2 separate regions of the Homo sapiens genome follow, and region 2 is linked to region 1. Evidence: fine-mapped expression QTL. A gene starts in region 1. The other region holds a variant in brackets. All regions are shown on one strand. Distances are between the middles of the regions. Region 1 holds the start of NECAB2 (N-terminal EF-hand calcium binding protein 2). Region 2 overlaps NECAB2 (N-terminal EF-hand calcium binding protein 2).

Region 1 (9,294 bases):
AGCCACGGGCAGGACTGCGTTAATTTTGGGGTGCAGGAGGAGAAACAGGACGCCAAGAGTTCAGAAAAGCAGCCGCAGACGAAGTTCCGGCTGCATTAGGCAGGGATGGGTGGAGGGCAGCTCCAAGGCTGGCCTGAACCTACAAGACCAGGTGCCTCCTCGTTCTGCCTTTCCAGTGACATCTGAATCCGTGGGACAGAGCTGCTCCCCTTTCCTCAAGGTCTGGCTGGCAGGTGCTGCTTGCCAGGCTGAGGCTCGAAGGCAGCTTTCCGCCCCTTCCAACACCATCGCCTGGAGAGCTTTCAAAACCTCCTCAGCCCGGGCCACACCCCAGGGTGACTGAATCAGCTGCTGTGAGGCCCACTCTGATTTCAGCATTTTTAAAGCCTCCCAGGCCCAATGTTGACACCTGTGCGCTAAGACCTTGCTATTCACAGGAGCTGTTTGGGTCCTGCAGGAGCTTGTTTGCAATGCAGGATGTCCCACCTACTCTGCACTGTAGTGGAGTCAGACCTTTCACTGTAACCAGTTCCCACGGGGACTGATTCACCAGCACTATTTTTTTTTTTTTTGAGATGGGGTCTCGCTCTGTCACCCAGGCTGGAGTGCAGTGGCGCGATCTTGGCTCACTGCAACTTCTGCCTCCCGGGTTCAAGCAATTCTCCTGTATCAGCCTTCCGAGTAGCTGGGACTACAGACGCCCGCCATCACAACTGGCTAATTTTTGTATTTTTTAGTAGAGACGAGGTTTCACCTTGTTGGTCAAGCTGGTCTCGAACCCCTGACCTCAGGTGATCCACCCGCCTCGGCCTCCCAAAGTGCTGGGATTACAGGCGTGAGCCACGGCGCCCTGCCCACCAGCACTTTAAAGCCTGAGAAGGATCCCAGCTTCTGCGGTGGCCCCCACCCCAATCTCAGTGGCTTGTTTTAACAAGGAGGGTACTGAGACCCAGGGAGAGGCAGCAACATGTACACATTTCCCGACACCAGGGAGGGCTGCTGGGGCCAGGTCAGCCATGGAGGAGGAGGAGGTAATACTCACTCTGACCCTTCCACCCTCTGTCCTCGCCTTGGGGTAAAGGACAGATGCCCTCGCCCCCCATCCCTCCAGGCAACGAGAAAGGGGGCACCCTTGGTCATTTCTAGGCACCTGGGCGGTGAGACTGAAGCACAGCTATGGGAGGGCCTCTCAAACATCACCCCTCCTCCTGGCTGAACCTCAGATCCCCAAGCCCTCCTCAAAGATCCAGCCTGGGCACCCCGCAGCCCCGTTCCTGACTGGGCAAGGCTCCTCAAAACTGGGGTCCCTATCTGGGTGTCCCAGATCCCCCTTGAGGCCAGGCACCAGGTAGGTGCCGGCTCTGGGCAGGAATGCTGAACACATGAGTGACATGGCAGGGCTGACACCTGGTAATGTCAGCCAGCTCCAGGAGTCTGCATGAGCACCTCCCGCCCCACCCCCCGCTCATCACTCCTTTTGGCAGGTGAGGAGATGGAACCTCAGAGCCCCCACCCTGACTGGGCAGGGCTTCCATGCAGGGCAGCTTGGGGCTGCAGGGCTCTGCCCAGGACTTTCAGTGGGAGCTCTGCGGGGGTCCTGAGGAGGGGATGGTTTGGCTGCATGGGTGTGTCTCTGGCTGTGTGTGCGTGCGTAAGCGAGTGCGTGAGTGTGTGAATGTGTGCCTGCGAGTGTGGCACTCTAGAGCTCCCCCTGCTCTGGCCGGCCCTCCCAGCCCAGACCCCGGCCAAGGGTTCCAGGAGCAGGGAAGAGGAGAGAGGAAGGGAGGGAATCCCCCGACTCACAGGGATCCGCGATACACGCGTGTGCACATTCACACACACCCACCACTCTCCCAGAAATCCACCACACAGGCAGAGGCAGCCCCCAGCCCCACCCCAGCAGGACCCTCGCTGAAACACGCAGTCAACATCCCCAGAAGCCTCCTCCACCTCCTCCTAGCACTCTCTGCTGGGAGAAGTCCTCCTCCTCCGAGCCGCCCCCTGAAGATTCCTCCCTCCCGGGTGGGGCGGGTGGGAGGGTGAGGTGGGCTTCCCAGAGATGGGTGATTTGGGTCCCAGGGGAGTTAGGAGGGGTGAGGGGTGAGTCTGGTCCATGAAGAGGACCCAGCTCTCTGTAGGGTAGAGGGGTGTGGGGAAGGGAACAGAGGACTTGGAATGGAAGGGGGCGGGGTGGGGAAGACCAGAGGGGTACCAGCTCAGGGCTGATGGGCGATGGCTCTGGCTCAATGGAAAGGAGACGAGAAGACAGAAGGTGGGGAGGGGGCTTCACTTTTAAAGTGGCAGTAGCTGGGGCAAAGGGTCTTTGAGCGTGAGATGAACGGGGGCTCAGGGTCTAGGGCGAAGAGAGGTGGGCTAGAGGTAGGGGTTGTTAGGGGTCTCAGAAAAGTATCGCTCCGGACAGGATCCGGGATGGAGAGGAGGAGGCGGCTGGACGCGGCGAGGGGCTCCGGTCCCGCGGGGTAAAGGGTGGGGGTTTGGCTTGGACAAAACTAGGGGGACAGTGGCCGGGTCCGGGGGCTCACGGCTCCCCACTGTGGGCAGGCAGGGACTCCGAGAAGCGCCGGTGGAGGGGCGGAGGAGGGGGGTCTCCCGGTCCAGGGAGAGGACTGGGCTGGAGACCGGCCTGGACGTGGCGGGGCTGGGGGCTCCCGCTCCGGCACGCGGAGGGGCCGGGGGTCTCCTGCCCGGGTAGGGAGGGCCTCGCGGGTCGCGGCGTCGGGGTCCGCCCGAGGGGCGGAGGGGGCTCCGGGTCCCAGCGGAGGCCACGGCGGGGGTCCCGGCCGGCGCGTACTCACGTCCAGGATGACGGCGGTGCCCCCGCGCGGCGAGGCTGGGCCGGGGTCCGCGGGGGCGGCGGGGGCCAGCGACTCCCGGGGCTCGCCCATCCTGGCGCCCACCCAGCGCAGCAGCCCGCCCAGCGCCCGGCCCTGCTGCGGCGGCTCCCGGAGCAGCCTGTGCGCGCCGGCCCTGCACAGGCGCGCCGCCCGCTCGCACATCGCGCCGCGCCCGCCGCCGCCGCCCGGAAGCCCGCCGACCCCCGCCCAGCTGCGGCCCGCCCCCGCGCGACCCCCTCCCCGCGCTGCCCGCGCCGCCCCGCCCTCTCTCCCGCTGCCCCCGCGGCCGCGGACACCGCGGGGACTGGCCGGCGCCGGGGGGCGGGCCGGCCGGACCCCGAGCCACGTGCCCGCTCCCCGCCGCCCCCACCCCCGCCGGCCGGGCGCGGGGCCTGAGGACTGCCCGCCGGGGCGAGGGGCGCGGGCGCAGCCACAGAGGGGGCTACCCGGAGGGGAGGGGTATGTGGGGCCTGGGGGCGGGGCGGCGCCCCTGGGGCCTGCTCCCCAAAAGTCTCCTGCTCTCCCCGCTTCTAAAGTCCCCCCTCCCACTCGCGGCGCGCAGCAGAGGCCGAAGCGCGGGTGTCCAGCGAGCCCGGAGCGCCCTCTGCCGGCTCCAGCCCCGGGGAGCGGCGCCCACGCCCCGCGGCCCCGTCACGCCCGCGGGCGCCCATCCTTAACTCCCGCGGGCGTGCACGCCCCCTCAGGCCGCCCCCTTGGTTACAAAACGCCCAGAACCAGTCTTCACCCCAGAACATCTTTCCTTCATACTCCATCCACCCATCCATCTATCCACCCACCCACCTGTCCGTCCATCCATCCATCCATCCATCCACCTGCCTACCCGTCCATCAATCCATCTATACATCCATCCACCCATCCTCCCATCCATCCATCCGGCCGGCCGACTGTCCGTCCATCCATCCACCCACCCTCCCAACCATTCATCCATCCATCCATCCACCCACCCAGCATCCTCCCATCCATCCATCCATTCACCCACCCACTCATCCTCCCTCCCTGGCATCCATCCATCCACCCTCCATCCATCCATCCATCCACCCTCCCATCCATCCATCCATCCATCCATCCATCCATCCATCCATCCGTCCATCCATCTGCCCGCCCGCCCATCTGTCTGTCCATCCACCCACCCACCCTCCCATCTATCCATCTATCCACCCCCCTACCCTCTCATCCATCCATCCATCCACCCACCTACACACCCTCCCATCCATCCACCCACCATCCTTCCATCCATCCATCTATCCTCCCTCCCTCCCATCCATCCATCCATCCTCCCTCCCATCCATCCACCCACCCACCCACCCCCCTCCCTCCCATCCATCCATCCATCCATCCACCCACCCACCATCCTCCCATCCATCCAACCATCCTCTCATCTATCCATCTGTCCACCCACCCACCCATCCTCCCATCCATCCATCCACCCATCCATTTAAAAGATGAATTAAGGAGAACCCACTAGGTGCCAGGCAGGTGCCCAACCACGGAGTTCCAGCAATGGGCAAAACAGATGGTGTACTTGGTCTCCCAGAGCTCCTGGAGCTTACATCCAAGTGGGCAGAGCCAAACACTGAAATGATTCCACAAACAAATGAACAATTAAAACTGAACTGCTGGAAGGGTGTGGTGGCTCATGCCTGTGATACCAACACTTTGGGGAGCCAAAGAGGGCGGATCACTTGAGGTCAGGAGTTCAAGACCAGCCTGGCCAACATGGTGAAACCCCGTCTCTATTAAAAATACAATAACTAGCTGGGCGAGGTGGCAGTCACCTGTAATCCCAGCTACTTGGGAGGCTGAGACAGGAGAATCATTTCAACCCAGAAGCAGAGGTTGTAGTGAACCAAGCGCCACAGCACTCCAGCCTGGGTGACAAAATGAGACTCTGTCTCAAAAAAAAGAAAAAAAAACTGCACTGCTATGAAAAGGTAGCACCTTAGACCATGAAAGGAGTATTTGCTGTGACGGCAGTGGAGGGGTTTGTGTCAGAAGAGGCTTCCTAGAGGAAGTGATTCTTATGCTGAGACATCCCAAGGAAAAGGAGTTAAAGAAAGGCGGGAAACTGTCCTGGGCTGGGGACTCTCTGTGCAAAGGCCTTGGGGCAGGCAGAGACCTGGCCAGCAGGAGGGACTGAAAGGAGGCCGCATGGCAGAACAGAGAGGAGGGAGGCCTGGGACAGGCTGCGGAGGGGGCGGGGCTGCAGCGCCCTCCTGGACATCACTGCCTGCACACACCCGCCACTCCCACCCCCAGACTCTAGTACAGCTGCCCGCTCAACTGCCCCCACACTTGGGGCACCATCCTTTGTACCCCAAGGCCCCAGCCATGGACCTCATCCAGGACCACATGCCCCAGGACTCCTCCCACAATCCCCTTTCCTCCCTTCCCCCCAGCCCAGTGCAGGGTTCCGGGAACGCAGCTCCCTCCGAGCACAGAGTCCTCAGACGCATGAGAGCAGGTGGGCACTGGCTTTATTTGGGACCTGCTTCTGGAAGGCGCAGGGCTGCAGGTCTCCTGGCTGGGTGCTCAGCTGGTCACACCAGCAGCTTTCCCCACAAATCCCAGGTCTAGGCCAACCCTGGCCTGCGGCCGCTGTTACCACCTCAGACACTGGTCTAAGTCCAGGGCAGCCTGGGATCCCTACTCCTCTTGACCCCAAAGGCCAGCAACGTGGGCTGACACCCCTCCCCGGGGCATCTTTGGACGGGTCCTGCATCCAGCAGGGATGTGGTCATCTCTGTCCTCTCAGGGCCTGGGAGCCAGCGGGTCTGGCCGAGTGTTAGGGTGGCTTCCTGGTCTCCTTCCTTAGCAGGGAGCTGGCCACAGCCAAGGCGCCCCCCTGCACAAACCTCACGAAGTTGTCCCCGGCCAGCGGCCCCATGGCGTACAGGCCCTCCTGGCGGGTGCTCTGGTAGGTGAAGGGGTCCACGTCAATGGGGTTCCTCTTGGCGCTCAGCGGCTGGTCAGGATCCACTGCAAAGTCAGCCCCTGCCCCAGGCAGGAAGGAGAGGTCGGGGTGGGAGCCGATGAGGACCAGCACCAGGGAGACCCCAAACACCTTCTCGACACCCTCGAGGTCCTGGAACACGGCCTGGCAGTCTTCCTTGAAGCACAGCAGCTGGTGCCTGGGGAGGCTGCGGTAACCCTCATAGGGGCTGGGCGACAGGATGGACTGCTCCCGCATCATCTGGTGCACCTTGTGGTACTCGGGGTACAGCATCTTGGGCAGCTGGTTGAACACCAGGCCAGGGTCGTCCACGGCCCGGCGGAAGGCATGGATCACCGGGATGTTGTAGTGGCGGGCGTAGAGGACCGCGTCGGCCGCTGACAGCCCCGCGCCAATGATGAGGACAGGGTCTGAGGCCGGGGTCACCGCACCCACCCTTGTGGCGGCCTCCAGGGCAGACAGCTCATGGTGGATGAAGGGCAGGGCCTCCCCGGGGATGCCCAGCCGGGCCGGGCTGTCGAACGTGCCTGTGGCGAGGACCACGTTGCGGGCCCACAGCGAGAAGGGCTGCTGGGCCTGGTTCCTGGTCAGGAAGCCGCTCACCTGGAAGAGGGGGCTGGAGTCCTGGGCCCCACAGCTGCTGGGATCGGGGGTCCCCCACTCCACGGCTGTGACTACAGCACCGGACACAAAGTTATGCCCCAGACCCTTCTTGACCACGTAGTCCCTGTAGTAGTGGGCGATGTCCCCGGCAGTGGCCCGGCTGTTGCGAAGACCTCTGTTGGGGAGGATGCAGGACGCCAGAGTCAGACACTGTTAGGGGTTGGGGGGCTGGGTGGGACGGGAGATGTCCAGGGCAGTGTCAGGCCCTGGAGCTGGACTAGGCTGTAGCTGTAGGACTAGGCCAGGTAATTCAACCTCTCTAAGCCTCAGTCTCCTCTTCTGTAAAATGGAGCTAACAAGGGTGCCTCCCTCAGGAGAGGTGGTGTAGGGTGGTGTAGGATGCTCTAGGGTGGTGTAGGGTGGGGTTCAGAGGGCAGCCTCCAGAGCCCCGCTGCCTGGGCTCGAATCCTGACTCTGCCATCAGGGAGCTGTGTCTGTTTCCCCAGTTTGCAAAATGAGGAAGATGTTGGTGGCAGGACCTATTTCGTGAGGTCGTGGGGAGGATTTGGTGAGCTGACAAACACAAAGTGCTTAGGATGGAACCTGACTGGAAGTAAGTGCCATGTAAGGATAGGCCACCATGATTGTCACCTCAAATGATTAAATATGGTATGATTCCATTTTTACAGAGTTCAGAAACAGGCAGAACTCATCTATGGAGCTGGATGTCAAGAGAGGGGTTACCTCCGGGGATGGGGAATGGGATCCTGATCAGAAAGGGCATGGGGGCTTCTGGGAGGGGGCCTGCTTCTTCATTCTCTGTGCTTACCTTGAGAAATTTCATCAACCTGTACTCACAGGAGTTACGTACTTTTCTATATGTAGCCAATTTATTATTTTATTTTATTTTATTTTATTTTATTTTAATTTTTTGAGACAGAGTCTCACTCTGCTGCCCAGGCTGGAGTGCCGTGGTGTGATCTCAGCTCGCTGCAGCCCCTGCCTCCCGGGCTCAGGTGATTCTCATACCTCGGCCTCCTGAGCAGCTGGAACTACAGGCATGCAGCGCCATACCTGGCTAATTTTTGTATTTTTATTAGAGATGGGGTTTTGCCATGTTGGCCAGGATGGTTTCGAACTCTTGACCTCAAGTGATCCACCAGCCTCGGCCTCCCAAAGTGCTGGGATTACAGGCTTGCGCCACCGCACCCAGCCTATATGTAGTCAAAAAGTTGATTTAAAGTTGATTTAAAGACTCCCATGTGACGCACTCACCATCGTTCCCAGCCCACGCAGCAGCAGGAGGTATTCTATTATTGTTGTTGTTGTTTGGATTGTCACTCTTTCCAGGGGCAGTGACTGCAGGCCCATTCTTGTGGCGGTTGAATGACAGGCTTTGCATCATTCTAGCACCTTCCTGTATCTCACTGTGTGACCTTAGATGAGTTAATCTACCCAGCTTGTGGGCTCATGGTTCAAGATGAACTCCCATACGGGAGAATCCTGTGCCACCTGCCGTCCGGCTACATGTAGCAGGAGCTGACAATGGACCCCCAAGGCCGTGCCAGTCAACCCAGCGCAGCCCGTCTGCGACCCTGGAATTTATCTCTGTGGGCAGTCATTCTTTTCTCAGTTTTTGTAAAGATTGTGACACAGAACGGTCCCAAGAGCATGTTCTGTGCAGAGTTATTTATAATAATGACACAATGGAAAGAATGAATGCTCCAGGGCTGGCAGGGGCTGGGTAACCTTGGCAGTGCCATGAGGCAGGGGGTGTGTCTGCGGTGGTTTTGTGCTCTGACGTCTAAGCCCAAGGCCTGGCACATAATAAGCATTCGGTGAAGATTTGCTGGACTGGGGATGCTCACTCGCCTTTGGGAATATTGTGAGGCCATGTAAAAGGATGGTTTTGAACGCTGTGACTTCACCACATGAAACGCTTGGGATACAATGTGAAAATGCAAAATGAGCCTATAAAAGGCTGTGCTTACAAGCGAAATGTAAGTTTCTGGCTGCCTACTAACATGTAGCTACACAAACCTGGAAGTCTTCCTGCCAAACATGCAGAAGAGTCTTCGCATCAAAGAGATAGTGAGGCCTGGAGGGGGACGCCTGGAGTGCCTGCCGTTGGGGACACAGGCCTGGTCACAGCCCTGGGGGCGGAGGAAGCAGGGCTTCCCGAGAGGCAGACTGCACCCAGGTATCTGCGCTGGGGCAGCTTCTCATTGAGTGGATGCACCCCAGGAGGAGCAGGGACTAGAACTCCTTTATTCAGTGATTGAAACTGTGAGAGGCAAATCAATCTTGGGGCCCCCAAATCACTAAGTTAAAGGAAAAGTCAAGCAGGGAACTGCCTAGGGCAAAGCTGCCTCCCGTCCTACTCAAAGTCTTCCCTCTGCCCACTGAGATAAATGCACACCTGATTGCCTCCTTTGGAAAGGCTTATAAGAAACTCGAAAGAATGCAACCGTTTGTCTCTCACCTGTCTGAGACCTGGAAACACCCCTCCCTGCTGGAGTTGTCCCGCCTCTGGACGGAACCAATGTCCATCTTACATATAGTGATTGATGTCTCAAGTCTCCCTAACGTATACAGCCAGGCTGTGCCCCGACCACCATGTGTACATGTTATCAGGACCTCCTGAGGCTGTGTCATGGTTGTGCGTCTTCAACCTTGGCAATTAAACTTCCTAAATTAGCCTGGCGTGGTGGCTCACGCCTGTAATCCCAGCACTTTGGGAGGCCGAGGTGGGCGGATCACGAGATCAGGAGATCGAGACCATCCTGGCTAACACGGTGAAACCCCGTCTCTACTAAAAATACAAAAAATAATTAGCCGGGTGTGGTGGTGGGCACCTGTAGTCCC
Region 2 (9,294 bases), 31 kb before region 1:
CACACAGCTCTTCCCAACCAGGGTTTATTTGGCGCCTGGGCACAGTGGTGGCTACCTGGCTAGGTTGGGCACTACAGGGGCATGACTCCTACTAGGTAGAAGAATGTCACCGAAGAGGGCAGGGTGTGGTCAGTGTGGGTCATGCGTGGCCATGTGAGGGGTAGGGGAGAGGCCAGGACCAGGAGGCAGGGGTGCTGGCTCCAGGAAGCCGCCCCCTTCAACCTTGGGCTTCACCAGGACCTGGCAGCACAGACACTGCTCTGCCTTCTCAGGTGGGGGCAGGGGCGGCCTCCTTCACTTAACAACAGGGAAACACCTTCTTGTGGAGGATGGATTGAAAAGAAGCTTCTGCACCAAAGTGTCTGTCTAGAAAAAAACGGGATTTCCTTCACAAGAAGAAGGGGCTGGTGGGCTCCTCCACGGGCCTCTGGGAGGCTGTCAGTCCCGTCCCACCGTGCACCAAGCAGCTAAAAGGAGAGAGACACGTTAGAGGGAAGGAGTGCGAATGTGGGCAGCCTCGTAGCTGGTGGTGGTCGTCTTGAATGACAGGTCGGGGGATGGCTTTGAGTCCTTGTGTGACACACAGGTCCTTGCTGGTCACCCAGGTGCAAACCACACACCTGGGAAGGGAAATTCAGTCTGGCTGGAAGTAGGGGGCCGTGGAGGGGGTGCTCTGGTGCAAGCTCTGGCAGGCATACCTGTATGTGGGGCCACCTCAGGGCTGGCTCTGAGCCTGGCATTGGTGGCAGGAGCTGACAGTGGGCCCACAGCAAGCAGGCAAGTCCCCGGGAGATATGGGGCAGCCTCTAGGCTCTTGCCCTTCTCTCCAGTCAGGTGGCCACTGCAGTTCCAGGCCTTTGCCCCCTACCTGGCACCAAGATCCTGGAGAGGGCCTCAGGCTGGCTCAGTGTGTCCACCTTGACGTGCCGGAACGCCTTACACAGGGGGCTCTGCAGGTGCCTGTGACGCAGGGACATGTGTGAGTCAGGGGTGGCAGGAGTGGAGCTCCGCGTGTGGCTCCCCTGTTAATCCTAGCTCTAGCCCAAAATGGGGAGCTTATCAATAAGCACGGGGGGTCTTTGGACTCAGAGCCTTTGTGGGAAGGTGAGGGGGTGCCCAGGGAGGCTGACTCTGGGGTGGGCAGTGAGCTTCTCTTTTTCCCTGTGAGCTATAAATGGGCAGCGGGATCCCCCCACTCATTGCACAGAGCCTCTACCTCCCCCTTTACCCTAGCAGGAGGAGTGGGGCCATCCTCTGCCTGGGACCCATGACAACACAGAAGCTGCGAAGGCTTTTAGTCCCTCGTTTTATGAGTCACTGAAGTACGGACAGGGAGGGGACACTCTCACTTCTCATGACCGCCCCTGTTCCCACTGGGGTCCTGAGTTTGTCAGCAAACCGTGAGTGTTTACCAGGGAAGCAGGAGATGGGGGCATGGGCTACCCCTAGGCCCCGCTTCCTGCCTGTGGGGTCTGGCGCATCAGCAATAGTCTCCACCCTCTCCCAGATGTGTGCTGAGCAGAGGACAAAGGCCTAAGGCCCATCAGAGCTGCTGACACCCTACCCCATCTCCGTCCCTCGTACCGGGCACTCAGCTGGAGGGGAGGTTAGTCGCTGGAACAATTGATCACATGGGGACTGAGTCACCTTCTAGGTTAGGCCCTCAACTCTACAGGGTGGTAAAGAAGGCAGTGCCTCGGCCCCCAGGGCTGTTCCAGGAGGACAAGGTGCTCTAGGGGCACAGAAGCAACCCTGGGGAAAGCAGGAAAGCCCAGCTGAGTGTGGTGGGGGCTCTCACTACCCACCAAGAGCTCCTGCCTCCACCAGGGTTTACTGACGCAAGCATGCCAGCGGGTAGATGCCTCGGGAATCTGCTGACTGGACTCGGCCTTACCCTCCCCTCCAAGGATGCCTGGCTCCAGGAAGACAGCCCCCCCACTTCCCTCTGTCTCCCTCACCTGCTGTGGGGACCCAGCATCTCACCTCTTCCACGCCTCCTCTGTCTCCCAGAACTCATAGATGACAAAGGTGAAGCCATCTGAGAGCCTCACGGCAGTGATGCTGCAACAGGAGATGGTCGGGGGGAGGAGGCTGGAGCTCAACCAAGGCCACCTCAGTGCTGTTCCCCTGGGGTGGCCTGAGACCCACCACTATACACAACGGCTGCCTTCAATGTTTCTTCCTGTCTTGACCTCCATCGAGACTCGACAGGGTGACCCCAGCACAGGGAATAAGGCCTGGCTTCTTATAGTGGCCAACAGCTATTTATTAAATAGAATCAATGCAGTGTAGTTTTTCTTTTGAGATAGGGTCTCACTCTGTTGCCCAGGCTGGAGTGCAGTGGCACAATCACTTCAGCCTTCCAAGTAGCGGGGACTAGAGGAGTGCACCACTCGGCCTAATTCAAAAACTGTCCCAATAGAGATGGGGTCTTGCTATGTTCCCCATGCTGGTCTTTAACTCCTGGGCTCAGGCTGTCTTCTCACCTTGGCTTCCCAAAGTGCCAGGATTGCAAACTTCAGCCACTGTGCCCAGCTGAAATGTCATGTTAAAGTGTGAACATTTATTTAAACAAAACCAGGTGGCTGGATGTGATGGTTCACGCCTGTAATCGCAGAACTTTGGGAAGTCTTGAGGGGTCGAGGCAGGTGGATTACGTGAGGTCAGGAGTTCAAGACCAGCCTAGCCAACATGGCAAAACACTGTCTCTTTAAAAAAAAAAAAAATAAAACTTGCTGGGCCTGGTGGCACATCCCTGTAATCCCAGCGATGCAGGACACTGAGGCATGAGACTCATTTAAACCCTCTGGTGAGAGGTTGCAGTGAGCTGAGCTTCCACTACTACACACTCACTCCTGCCTGGACAATAAAGCAAGATTTGGTCTCAAAAAACCTTTAAAAATCAAAAAACCTTTAAAAATCAAAGCATCTTCCCTCTTCTTCCTTCTACTTGTCCTCTCATTTAATCCTTGCAACACCCCCACTGCACTGTACCTGACCTGACCAAAGGAGGCTGAGGGGAGGGGGTGCTGGGCCACAGAGGAAGGGGCTGCAGGCAAGTCCCCCATTGCTCTATGGGACCCAGGGGCCCGCACTCACGTCATTTTAAAGGTGCTGATAGTCTATGCCGCCCCAGAATCCTCTCTGCAAGTGCACTACAATGAGGAAGCCCCAAGTGACCATAAAGCGGGGGCCAAAAGCTGGGGAGGAGGGGCTACAGTGCTCAGCCTAGAGGAAGGGGCCGGGCTGGATTCCATCTTGGGGTGGACACACCTCCGTGCAGCTTTAGGTGCACCATGCCTGGGAAGTAGAATCTCACCTGGCTCTCCAGGCTTGCCGTCTCCAACTCGACAAACCAGAGCCTCTACGTCCACCGTGCCTCCTCTCCACAGCGCATCGGGGTGGCCCTACTTCACCCTGGAGCCTCCCACTTATTCACGTAATGGAAAAAGATCAAGTCTGGCCCCTGCTCCTGTGCAGTCTGTCCTCCTGGAGTGGAGTGGGTCCTGCCCCCCCATCCTGGCTACTTACTCAAGAATGGCCCCTCGTGGCCACGCCGAGTCTCGGGAACGGCCGCACTCCTGCCCAGGCTACTCCTCCCCTCGTGCTACAGGTCAGGCTGTTGTCACTCAAGCCTCAGTGCACAGGGGGCCCAAGAAGACCCCTCTCAAAGACCCTGTGCTAGGACCTGGCCTGCCTGGTTCACAGCCATGTCCCCAGGCAATGGGGTGAATGAGTGTGTGCTCTGGGGATGGAAGAAAGCCCTGGGAAGGGAGTTGGGCAGAGCCTTGCTGCAGAAACGGGGGGCGGGGGACCACTACCAGCAAGAACAAAGGGCTGTTGTCTTCTGCAACCCCCTCCACTCTGGCCCTGGCCACATGCCTTAGCTTTACCAAGGAGCTACATCAGCCTGGTGGGATGAACAGGAATTTGAAGGTAAGGCCGCTTGCCCCGCCCTGGACATCTCAGCACATCAGGGGGAGAAGGGCAACTACATGACTTGGGCATTTCCCTTCAGCTACCGACTCTCCTCTCCTTCCTCAGTGGTTAACTGAGCAAATACTACATTCTGGGCCTGGACTTAAGTGTGCAGGAACCCCTGTGACAGCAGCAGCTGAGGCTGACTGAGCGCACGGGGCACACCAGGCCCAGCTGGAGCCCTTCACACTTGAGATTCACACACTTGATTGTATATGCACTCATGATCACCCCAGCAAGGAGTCCTGGGGGTGGTCCCCCCTTTACAGATGAGTAAGCTGATGCCAGGGAGATGAAGACACCTGCCACATTTGCTTGGCTGGGAGGAACCTCAGTAGAGACCTGAACCCACTTCTTACGCATCCAGCTGTGTGTGTCCCTGGGGTGCAACTTGTACTACTTAGGGCAAAGCCTAGTCCTGCCCTGTTCCTCCACTGCCAGGCAGAGCTCCCTGCCACCATCCCACCCACGCCTCGGCAGCTCACTCACTGGAAGCAGTTCCTCACGCCAGTGGTCCCCCGCAGATACTGGCGCAGAGAGTCCAGAAACTCGCTCAGTTGCTCGGGGCACACGGCCATCTCCTGCCGGACCAGCTGCAGGTGCTGCCGGGCACAGCAGGAGTCAGTGTGGGGCTCCACGTCAGGCCTTCTCCCTAAACACCCCATCAGGCCCCCATGACCTCCCTTCCTCGGTCAAAATAAAATAACCCTCCCCCACTTTTCATTCTTACCCATGAATGGATAAGAATGGACTAAAAATGGGCTAAGAAAGGACTAGAACCTCAAGAGCCCAGTGCAGAAGTAGCCCCCAAAAATGGGGAAAACAGACGAGGTTGTTTACAGAGGCCCCATCCATGTCCACAACCACCTGCACAGCCTCCAGGGCCTGGAGACACAGCACATCCACTGACAAGAAAAACTCATAGTTGATGGACTCAGCATTTTCACATCACTGTC[T/C]GGCTGATCACTTTGCTCTATGCCAAACCTTTTTTGGATCAAAGTCCAGGAGCCTCTGGGCCAGGTGTGGTGGCTCACGCCTGTAATCTCAGCACTTTAGGAGGCCAAGGTGGGCAGATCATGAGGATAGGAGTTTGAGACCAGCCTGACCAACATGGTGAAACCCTGTCCGTCTCTACTAAAAATACCAAAAAAATTAGCCAGGCGTGGTGGCACACACCTGTAATCCCAGCTACTCAGGAGGCTGAGGCAGGAGAATTGCTTGAACCCAGGAGGCAGAGGTTGCAGTAAGCCGACATCCCACCACTGCACTCCAGCCTGGGAGATACAGCAAGACTCCATCTCAAAAAAAAAAAAAAAAAAAAAAAAAAGGTCCAGGGAGCCTCAAGAAATACCCCCGGAGTTGGTGGGGTGGCTCCTGTGCCAGGGCAGGGTCTGGGTGCCAAGCGCTGGGCGACATCTCCCCTCCTGGTGGTCCCAAGCAGGGAGAGCGGGGTCAGGGGCATTGAGCCACTTGGATCTTGGCAGTCCTGGCATGGGTAGGGATGTGGTCCCAGAAGAGAGGTGGGAAGGGGCCTCACCATGTTGGTGCCATCTTCATCTGACAGGCGCTGCTGCAGGTCGAACCACAGTGCCTGAAACAATCCAGCACACAGTGATGCTAGACCCAGAGCCCCACTCCGCCCCGGGGAGCCAGGAGCTCTGGGATCCCTGGGGCTGTTGGGAGCTCCCAAGGACCCGGCCCTGTTGCACAGGGCTGGGAGACCAACGCTAGGAAGTGGCAGAGACTCCCTCTGGCCTACAGGGGGCCTAGAACATGTTGCTGGGGTGAGGATGGCTTGGGAGAGGCAGCAAGGGGGACTCCAGAGGCCTGAGTCCAAGATGCTGGGGTTTGCCACTATGATGAGCAACAGCCCTTAGATTCCCTGTAACTTATAATTCACCCCAAATCATAACCCCCAGCACCTCAGGGATCTAATGGGGTGAACTGTTCTCTCTGGTCTTCCCCAGACTCTAAGCTAGATGGTTTACAAATACACAATCTTCCAGACTCCCCAGGGAAGGTGCTGCCCCACTGTAAGTTTCGGTCTCCAGGAACCACATCTGCTCTGTTCGCCCACGACTGGTGCCCACACAGGGCTGAGCCCCCACAGAAGATCAACAGTCACTATGTCACGGCAGAGAACCCCGGCTCTGAAGGCACGAAAGCCATGTAAGTGTCAGAGCGTGGGTCTGAACCCAGTGTGTCTACCTGACGCACAGGCTCATGCTGCTGCTTCCTTCAGCTTGGGCACCCCACTAACCACCTCTGTGGCTATCTCTGTCCATCCTCCATGAGGACAGACCATCTACGGGAGTCACACAGGGCAGCCACAGGTAAAGCACGCCAGCTAATAAGGAAAACAGCAGCAGGTGGATGAGTCTGTGTAGTCACCACCGTGACGTTCTAAATGTTTGAGCAAGGGACCTTGCACGCTCATTTTGCACTGGGCTCTGTAGTAGCTGATCCTGGCAAGGGTACTGCCTTCTGGGGGCACACAGCATGAACACGCCTTGGTAAGTGGTGAAGGTGTGCCTGGCAGGAACAAGTCTGTTTCCATGGTTTTACAAGCATACGTGAGGGGTCCTGGGGCTGGAAAAGCCATAGGAGGATGAGGAGAGGCACTGTGGCCCCTGTATCTGCCCCATTCTTCTCCCAGCCAGGGGCCCCTAGAGCCTCCATCCTTCCAGCCCAGAGGCAGCTCCGGTTGGCCGGTGAAGGGCGGGGCCTGAAGCCAGGCCCGGATTGGCCCCTGCTGACCGCCCGGGCCAGTTAGAGGCTGGGGAGGAGGACCTGGTCCCACCCCGTCTCCAGGACGCCCAGGTACTCCGTGGTTACCAGCCAGCCTGGTTGTTAGGGCGACGGTGCTCTAAAAATAAGCTTCAGAGTCTCCCTCCCGAGGCGCCCGCTGAGTTGTTATGACAACCGGGCCACGGGGTCCCCTCCGAGCCGCTCCCGCAGCTGGCTTCAGGAAGGGGGTAACTCCACCTCAGCCTCATCCCTGCAGGAGGGGAAGTTTGAGCTTCCTCCCTCGGACTTCATTCCACGTCAGCCTCTGTCTCCCTCCATGCGGGGAGCCCCTTGTTCCTGCCCCCATGAATGCCTGAGAACCCCCAAACTAAAAGTAGCAATACCCTTTACAAAGGGTGTAAAAAAAATACACAAAAGTAGGAGAAACATAAAACCACCTCAATCCCAGGGTTCTGAGAGCTCAGTTACCTTGGCTTATGTGGGTATACGGGTGTGCTGTGTGCATGTGGATAGGTTTGGGTAACAGAATGCCTCATAATAATTGCTAACATTGCTAATATTAAATGCAAGCTACAGCACCGGGCCCTGTGCTAAACCGGAGACATCATTTTGGTTCATCCTAACGACACCCCTATGAGGGAGGGGTCCCATGCTCCAGGTTATTTTCTTGATTATCAGAGGAGGAATCTAAGCCTCAGAGAGGACAAGTCCCTGGCCCAGGGTCACACAGCTATGAAGTGGCACAACCAGAATTCTGACTGATACCTGAGCCCATCTGTCTGTAGGCCCTAAGACAAACTTTTCTTTCCACCAAATGGTCATATTGTGAGCACTCTATCCCGAGTCACGAAACATTATCTGAAAATGTTTTCTGTAAGGGCTGTGCCATTTTCTATCACCTGTGGACGTCCCATATCACACTTAATACATTTGCTACTGCTGGTCACTTCCTTCCTTGTTTTGAAACTCTCTCGAATCATCACGTCTCTCTTTCATCCTGGTGCTGCCTTTCGGCCAATATCTGCTCCAGCCACTTCAGAGCAAAGTCTCCTTGAAGCTAGGGCCTTGCAACACGGGACCCTGCTGACCACCCTCTGCTCCTGGAGCTGCTCCTGCTGCCTGCAGGCCCGCCTGACCCCCCAACACTCTCTCTTCCCAGGCGCCCCTCCTTGGGCCTGAACAACACGAGCATCCCCCGGGGTTTGATCCTTAGCTTCGTCCTCGGCAGCTCCACGCCCCACCTGGGGGATGTCTTTTTCATGGTTCCCTGGCCCCTCTGCAGCCCAGACTTTTGTCCTGAACTCCAGGCTTAACTCTGCACTCCCTCAGGGGTTGGAAGGAGTAGACGCCGTGGTCAGGCCAGGGCTTACTTTGCTCTCCAGCCTCCCAATCAGCTCTGCCAAGCGGCTGATCTGGGCTTCCAGACCCTCTTCCTTTGCATCCTCCGTGGCTGCGGTAGAGAAAGAGACACACAGACTTCAGTGGTGGGCAGGACGAGGGCTTCGGGGGGAAGCTGGAAACATCCAGCCCCTCCAGGGGCATCAAACTTGCTCATCTCCCCAGTCCCTGTCAGAGGACTCTCAGAACTCCTCGGGACCCCCAGCTGGTACCCCCACCAGGGCCCCCGCTTTCTCTCACCAGATGGAAGGGTCTTGCCTTGTTCCATAGCCATGAGCTTGTGGTTGGGGGCAGAGGCGGGAGTGGGGCTTCCACACCAGGTCTGTGCCGCGCTGTGGCTGGGTTTGATGTGGTTCTGTCTGCAGTTTGGATGGGAACACACACAGACCATGGCGGTGGCTTCAGGGCCCTTACCACTTCCAGCATCTTCCACAGGCATTTATTACGCAAGACAGTGGACTCACACATGCACAGAACTTGCATCATGGCCTTTGTTTTGACAGAGGAGGAAATGAGGTTCTTAAAGCAGGTGACTCAGCCAGGGCCACGCAGCTAGCTGGGCAGAGCTGGGATTCGAATTCAGCTCCATTCTAGGACCCCACGGCCTAGGCCTTTTCCCCAAGAGATTCAGTTCCAGAGTGAGGCTGAGCCAGGGACCCACCCCCACTCTAACAGCTCGAAGCTTTCGGGCACGTGTAGAGCCCAAGCTGTGGAGTGACCAAGTCCCCCTCCCTCCCTCATGATAGGCCCATTTAATGTTTGGTGCCCTCTGGGGTGGGGGACCTGGTTTCAAGACCCCCCTCCAACACATACACATAAAAGCGAGACCTAAAGAGACACTGACAGTCGGGATGTAACAGGACAGAAACTGTGATCCTGACCTGGGCCTGGCCCCATCTCCCGGCCCTGGACACCCCTCTCCTGTGCATACTCATGTGCATACACACCCCTGCGTGCCCTGACAGGCACAGCTAGCCACAGGCAGAGGCAGACACACACACACACACACACACACACACACACACACACACACACACACAGCTCACCTTGCACTGTGTCCAGCACATAGTAGGGACTCAAAAATGCTCAATGAATGACCAAATCCTCCCATGCAAAAGGATGCTGAAAAGCTCCTGGCAGACATACAGAAACACAGACACTCCCCCAGAA

What was found. PIP is the estimated chance that this variant, and not a neighbour inherited with it, causes the effect.
Region 2: its variant is fine-mapped to the expression of NECAB2 in whole blood (TOPMed, PIP above 0.99).

The regions. Positions count from the first base shown.
Region 1 is chr16:83,962,372-83,971,665 of GRCh38, reverse strand. It overlaps NECAB2 (N-terminal EF-hand calcium binding protein 2), which reads right to left and starts at 3,422. Exons shown (of 13, transcript NM_019065.3): 1 at 2,817-3,422. The coding sequence starts at 3,017. It overlaps OSGIN1 (oxidative stress induced growth inhibitor 1), which reads right to left. Exons shown (of 6, transcript NM_182981.3): 6 at 5,334-6,604. The coding sequence ends at 5,659. RefSeq lists a silencer at 3,357-3,546.
Region 2 is chr16:83,993,491-84,002,784 of GRCh38, reverse strand. It overlaps NECAB2 (N-terminal EF-hand calcium binding protein 2), which reads right to left. Exons shown (of 13, transcript NM_019065.3): 7 at 8,365-8,483; 8 at 8,097-8,176; 9 at 5,516-5,569; 10 at 4,468-4,580; 11 at 1,984-2,061; 12 at 869-960; 13 at 9-467. The coding sequence ends at 439. Among named protein-coding and RNA genes, the nearest start is that of NECAB2, 30 kb to the right of the region's middle. RefSeq lists an enhancer at 1-461 and a silencer at 6,740-6,799. The variant T/C (reference allele first, on the strand shown) is at 4,935.